2 linked regions of the Homo sapiens genome follow. The protein of the gene in region 2 binds, or shares a complex with, the protein of the main gene of each other region. Each region holds a gene or a part of one and is shown on either strand. Other genes may lie near its edges.

Region 1 (3,600 bases), on a different chromosome or scaffold from region 2:
ACCCGGCCGGGAGCGGTGGCTCATGTCTGTAATCCCAGCACTTTGGGAGGCCGAGGTGGGGGGATCACAAGGTCAGGAGATCGAGACCATCCTGGCTAACACGGTGAAACCCCATCTCTACTAAAAATACAAAAAAATTAGCCAGGCGTCGTGGCGGGCGCCTGTAGTCCCAGCTACTTGGGAGGCTGAGGCAGGAGAATGGCATGAACCAGGGAGGCAAAGCTTGCAGTGAGCCAAGATAGCACCACTGCACTCCAGCCTGGGTGACAGAGCGAAACTCCGTCTCAAAAAAAAAAAAAAATTACTGAGACCCTCAAAGAGCTTTTCTGTATGTGAATTACATCCACCTATATTTATACTAATAGAAATTATAACAAATTTTTAATTTTCACTAATTTGTTTAGAAATAATGGATCCATTATATGTTAACATAAATAACATTTTTCTGAAAATAGCCATATTTTAGTAAATAAAATTGAGTGAGAATGACAAATGACTTAAAGGAAAATAGCTAGATTCTCGTATCTGACCCTGTTTTTGCTTTGTTTTGGTGGAGGTGTACAAAGAAAATCTGCCTTCCTACAATTAAGTAGTTGGGAAAAGAAAAGGTACTTTTAAGTGACAGTTTCTTAATAGTTAGTTACAATGCAGAATATGAAACCATATAACTGTGAACTTTTCATACTTTTAAAGTCCATTAATTTATCTTGCATTTTGAATGAATTTTCCAACATTATGCATTGGATATTCAGAAAATACAAGTTCAGTGAATTATATGGATCTTTCAACTGTAAACACACTTCATTACGGAATATCAAACAATCAAATTTCTTAATATCAACATTGAGTCCTCATCTTTTTAATATTCAGTTTGTCAGAAATGAGAAGTATACATAAAGCATTTCTGCTGCTTATTTACAGTTATCTCAAGGAAAAGCACCTGTGCACTTGAATTGTGAATTTAACTGGTCACTTTTCTCACAGAATACAACTTTTACTTGAAAGAATGACGGGCAAACTATGATTTTCCAGACTTAAGCATTTAGTCAACCTTGTGGACCCCCTGAAAGAACCCTTGGGGAGAATCCAGGGCTCCATGAACTATACCTTGAGAACCACTATTCTAATCAACAGGGCAAAAATATTCCACAATTTCATGAGTCATTACAATGCAAGGAAAACACAACTGCTAATAAAAAAAATCTAAATATTTCCACTTGAATCCAAGATACAGAAAACCAGCTCTCAATGTAAAATATATTCAAAACATTCGGCCTACATAAAGGGTCTACTTCAAGAACCTAAAATTCTTTTATCAAGCACTTAATCCCTACAACTTAAAACACACTTTAGAATACAGGTACATTAAGACCATTAAAAAAAGATAAGATTAAGGCTGGGCGCTGTGGCTCACACCCATAATCCTATCACTTTGGGAGGCCGAGGCGGGAGGATCACTTGCAGCCAGGAGTTCGAAAGCAGCCTTGACAACATGGTGAAAACCATCTCTACCAAAAATACAAAAATTAGCCAGGCATGCTGGCATGTGCCTGTAGTCCCAGGGGTGGGAGGATGGTTTGAGTCTGGGAGGCAGAGGTTGCAGTAAGTCCAGATTGTGCCACTGCACTCCAGCCTGGGCGACAGAGCCCGACCCTGTCTCAAAAATAAAAAACGAAAAAAGAAAGCAACAAAATTCTTCCAGACATGTCAAGTAATTAGACCATAAAATGTAGAATGTTAACTATCCAATAATAACTGCTAATGCTACTATCAAGCATTGTGCTAAGATTTTATATGGTTATTCCATTTAATCCTCAAAACAAACCTATAAGGTAAGTACTACCAATTTCCATCTTACGTATAAGAAAACTGAAATATAAATGTAGCTTGCCTAAGGTCAGAGGAAGAATGCATGGCAGAGTTGGGATTTAAAACCAGCACACTTCACTCAACTATACGTTCATCCTATAGAAAAATTACAGATTCATCTCCGGCTAAAGAAAATGTTTTGTGGGGGAAAAGTAGGAATATTTTAAAAAAAAGACAAACTCACAGTTTTTAGTTCCATCAGTACTTGTTCATCCACTCCATCATCCAGAAAGATGTCTCTCACATCATTAATGACATCTTCAATCACAGATCTGTATAATTTAGGCTTTAAAGGAAAAATAAAAGACTTGAAAAAGACAGTTTTTCACAGCTTATAATGTATAACAGGTTTTCACAAATTCAAAACGAATAGTCATTTTGCCAACTATCTATATATGACTTTAAAGATACGACCACCATCATTTGCCATAAACTGGATTTGATGACTGCACACTTTAATAAAAATTTTAAGATTAATGCAGTTCATAAACAGAAGGCCCCTAAGACTACAAGGTCCATACAATTTCCAATTATAATTTCCTATGTTGTAGTCAAAATACCTAATGTAATGTTCAATAATAGCTTTACGGGTTGCTTATGTCTGGCTTCTACTATTCCATGCTTGGTTTGAACTCTGTTGTATGTCTTACTACCTCACCACTGTATCTTAGACTTTGGAGAATCTTATGTCCGGGAGTCATCTGCCTGGTAATAATCTGCAACCTAATGAACATTCAGGTTTAAAAATCACCTAACTTCTGTTGTGTGACCCAGTCTGTACTTTCAAGCTGTACCATTAAACTACTCATACACTCACAATGGCAGGTCTTAAGGTCCCAAGGAACAAGGTATACTGATTTCCTTCCCAGGATTTCTCCTCTACTACTGCCCAGGTAATGCTATGAAACATTATAATGAACATGAACCCTCTAAATGTTTACTATTATTATTACAATTAGCACCGTTGATACTACTTGGAGGAGCGGGAAGTAAAGAAGCTGGCTTCTAGAAGGTTGAATGGTAAAATGAGTAAAATGAGAATAGATGTGAAAGAACTTTCAAAAAGTATAAAATATTTTTTAAAAACTACAAAGTGGGAGATAGAACAATTAGCCCAATCCACATCCTATTTTTTCCCCCACATCCTATTTTTAACCTGTTAGACAAAAGGAAGTCATGTCAGATGACAAAACTAGAGCTGCCTTGACAAAACTAGAGTTGCCTGGTTATAAATCCTCCCCATTATCAGAGGGTTATGGTTAACAAGCTTTTTAGATGTTTTCTCATTACTTCTGTTTCATACCTTGCTTAAGGTTAATCGCTATCAAATAAAACCAATTTTGGGAGGATCGCTTGAGCTCAAGAGTTCAAGACCAGCCTGGGTAACATAGTGAAACCCAATCTCCACAAAAAATTAGCCAGGAGTGGTGGCACGTGCCTGTAGTCCCAGCTGCTTGGGAGGCTGAGGTGGGAGGATGGCTTGAGCCCAGGAGGGAGAGGGTGCAGTGAGCCAAGATTGCACCACTGCCCTCCAGCCTGGGTGACAGGCCCAGACCCTGTCTCAGAAAACAAACAAATACAAATGAGTTTGTCAATACAATTTACCTCAACCATTAAATACTATTTAATCCTTCTCATTACAAGAAAACCAATTCAAATATCTGGGTTCTTGCTTTACTGTTCACTCACTAACCTGCTTTATTTTGCCAAATCCGCCTCTTGAAGTTTATT
Region 2 (3,953 bases):
ATGAGTCACCTCCTACTTAGGAAGTGCCTCCCCAAACCAAGTTTCCTGATCCTCACAGCAACTCTGTGCCATAAACAAGATAAGCATTATTATTCTCATGAATCAGAGGAGTGAATTAATAATCTACCCATGATCCCAAAATTAATAAGCAATAGACTCAAGCCCCAGCTTTTAGGTTTGAAACTGATACTACCCCATTCCCCTCTCCTTCTGCCACCAAGAAAATATCATATCTTTCCCACCACAATGAAATTCTTAGTTGCTGCTGCCAAAACACTTTGTTTGATGAGCCCATAAAATAACTTGATATTTAGGTCGGGCATGGTGGCTCACGCCTGTAATCCCAGCACTTTGGGAGGCCGAGGCAGGTGGATCACAAGGTCAAGCGATTGAGACCATCCTGGCCAACATGGTGAAACCCCACCTCTAATAAAAATACAAAAACTAGCTGGGCGTGGTGGCACGCGCCTGCAGTCCCAGCTACTCAGGAGGCTGAGACAGAAGAATCGCTTAAACCCAGGAGGCAGAGGTTGCAGCGAACCAAGATCGTGCCACTGCACTCCAGCCTGGTGGCAGAGCGAGAATCCGTCTCAAAAAAATAAAATAAAATAACTTGATATTCATAACCTGGATATCATCATGAGGAAACAATAGTCAAACCTAAATTGAGACACAATGCAAAAATAACTTTCCTGAACTCTTCACAAATGTCAAGGTCATGAAAGACAAGGAAAGACTGAGAAACTGTTCTAGATTAAGGAAACTAAAGAACCATGCAATTAAATGCAATGCACAATCCTGGATTAGCTCCTAGACCCATTAAAGACATCGTTAGGTTTGAATACAATAACAGTTGCTTTCTCAAAAAAAAAAAAAAAAAAAAAAGACATCATTAGGACAACTGGCAAAATTTGAATTGAGGACTGCTGACTATATGGATATCAATGTTACCCTGATTTTGATGGCTACACTGCAGAGAATGTCCTTGTTCTTAGGAAACACATACTGAAGAATTAAAGAATGATATGGCTTCATGCCTGCAACTTACTCTCATGTGGTTCAGGAGGAGAAATAAAAAGGGAGAGAATAATAGAGCAAATGTGGTAAAATGTTAAAAGTTTTTTTAAAAATGGTACGATGGGCTGGCCGTAGTGGCTTACATCTGTAATCCCGGCACTTTGGGAGGCTGAGGTGGGAAAATCACTTGAGCCCAGAAGTTTGAGACCAGCCTGGGCAACAAAGTAGACCCTATCTCTACAAAAAAAAAAAGAATTTCAAAATAAAGATGCCATGATGAAGTCAGGAATAACAGAACTGCAGTCCCTGCCAGCCATGACTCTCCACTTCACACCAGTACCAAAGGAACATTTGCTTTCAAACCTAGTCCTTCTGTATATTTATTTTCCTCTCTAGCCATAAAGAAACTGTATTATCTAAATGTTGGAGAAAACACAGCACTGCAAGCACAGCCCAAAGATACATGCATACTGTGTAGACAACCTAACAGATTTTGCTTTTCTAGACAAGAGGAACCCCTTGTGGAGGATTTTGAAAATAAGTAATTTTAACCTATGAGAATTTGCTATCAAAATGGTAGAGCCCCATTACAATACACTAAAGATAAACTTTACTAACAAATAACAAATGTTACCCACATTCAAAGCCAAAAGTCTGTTAATACAAAAGATAACAGTGCCAAAGAACTCTACTGTCTCCTTTAATAGTCAACACTCATACCCTTCAGATTTCTCTTCACCATTTTACCCACCATCCAGTCTCCCTGAGAATCTCCTACAAACCTGGAATTCCCCTCCTTATCAGCTACTTCTCAAATCTTCTCTCTTAATTTCTCTTCCTGGTGTCTAAAATTGTCTGCCTCTGGCCTTTTTCTCATTCTAAATTCTCCTTAGGCAATTTCATAGTAATCTATAATTATCATTAATAAATTAAAAATTTTACATCTCTAGACTTGACCGTCTTTCAAATCATGTTTGCAACTCACTGTTGGAAGTTCACGTCTTAGTGTTCTGACACTAAGACACTAAATCAACATATCCAAAACAAAATTATTGTCTTACCTCTAAAACCTCTTTCCCCTTCTAACATGTTCCCAATCTTATTTTTCCCCCAACCTATTCAAAGCACCTCTCTTTAATCACCCAAGCCACAAACACCAACAGTATTTCCAATTCCTCTCTTCATTGCTCCACACTCAACCAGTCATCAAGTCCTATCAAGTGTATTTCAAAAGGTATCTTACCCATCATTCTTTTTCATTTCTTTAGGACCTTGCCATTTCACATTTATACTACTGCAAAAACCCCTAAATTAGCTCCCTGTTAATACAGTACCTGATTGTAATCTACTCTTTATGCCGCTGTCAGAATGGTATTCCTAAAACAAATTTCTAATTGTATTACTTCCCTGATCCAAAAGGTTGGATGGGTCTCCATTTTCAAAATAAAATTCAACCTGTTCAAGCTCTCTCCACACTGAGACCAAGCTTTCACTTCCATATATTTACACTCCACTCCCACTAAGCTGACATGACTAACTGTACCGTACATTTTGCATGTCTTCGTCCATCTGGGCCCTTGCTTAAACCACCTCTCAAATGCAAATACCCCTTCATCAATTTTGCTCCAATCTAAAATGCCACCTTCTCCATGAAACTGGATCTAGACTTCCAACAGGAATTAATTGCTTCCATCAGTCTGTGCTTCCAAAGGACTTTGTACCTCCACCAAAACACTTTCCACATACCTACCTTTTTATTATGTTCATGTTTCCCACCATATTATAAATTCCGTGAGAACAGGCACTATGTCATATTTATTTTTTAATCCTCCCAAGCACCCAGAAAAGTGCCTTAAGCACAGAAGGATCTTAAATAACGTAGAGCAAAACTGACCATACCTGCTGGCAGCTCTCTAAATCGTAGATATTCCATAGACCGTGTAGTCACAAGTGGCTTTTGAGGATAATAGAGAACATGGGCCAATGTGTCCATGCGAACATGGAAGTTGGTGATGTAAACTCCCATAGCCTGCTTACCCATAGCAGACTGGTATGTGTTTCTAGGGGACTAAACGTAAAAATGAAAAGCAGAAACAACAAAAAGTTACTATCACTAATGGAAAAGACTCTGACAATAAATCAAAAGAAATATGATTGGTAAAACTCCTGATTTTTTTCAAAAACAGTAAGTAATAACCATTTGGAATAATCAATTACGGCTCTTAACCATGAAACACAACAGCAATTATATCAAATACTGATTCCGTAGGAGTTAATAGCCTTTTCATTAAAAGGCTTTTTCCCTCCAGATAAGACTACAGAGTTACTTTCAATTTTTATTACTTCTCCCAATTCCTCACACCAGAAGACAAAAAGTGATACCAACCTGGTTATGATCAGGAAAGGGAATAATAGATGCACAGACACCAAGGATCATTGAGGGATGAATCTCACAGTGTGTATATGTGGAACAATAAGCTACTTCTTTCTCCTGTAAATCATCTGGAGTCATTGCAAGCATCACTGTTTCTTCTTCCAGGGTATCAATATACTCCACTACCCCACTGGCCACAAGATCCTGCCAACTAAAAAAGAATTCACTCAATTTTCTACTTCCTCAAGTATTTTAACTAACTATTCCTCCTACTTAAAAGTATTCCTATATTTATATTTAAATAAGTTTAATATTATATATTAAATATACATATATATTTATATATATATATAGTTTAATATTATATATAACTGACCAACATAGTTACATGATTGTTGACAAGTGAAATAGGTAAGCTGCTGGAGAATAAGCACTGGAAGAATACACACCTAACTGTTACCAGTATATACTTGTGAAGAAGAGAGTATACATTGGAGGGCAATTTTTTAAATTTATCATACATATTGTTTGAATGATTTTTATATTAGTATACATAACTATA

Evidence for each region. The genes of interacting proteins can lie anywhere in the genome.
Region 1: POLR2B (region 2) and GTF2A1 share a complex: the UniProt entries of both Homo sapiens proteins name them as parts of the TBP-based Pol II pre-initiation complex.

What each region holds. Positions count from the first base shown.
Region 1 is NC_000014.9:81,214,360-81,217,959, forward strand, and holds part of GTF2A1 (transcription initiation factor IIA subunit 1), read right to left. Parts: intron 2,156-3,600; coding exon 2,054-2,155; intron 1-2,053. UniProt on the Homo sapiens protein: TFIIA is a component of the transcription machinery of RNA polymerase II and plays an important role in transcriptional activation. TFIIA in a complex with TBP mediates transcriptional activity.
Region 2 is NC_000004.12:57,016,692-57,020,644, reverse strand, and holds part of POLR2B (DNA-directed RNA polymerase II subunit RPB2), read right to left. Parts: intron 3,603-3,953; coding exon 3,404-3,602; intron 3,086-3,403; coding exon 2,917-3,085; intron 1-2,916. UniProt on the Homo sapiens protein: Catalytic core component of RNA polymerase II (Pol II), a DNA-dependent RNA polymerase which synthesizes mRNA precursors and many functional non-coding RNAs using the four ribonucleoside triphosphates as substrates.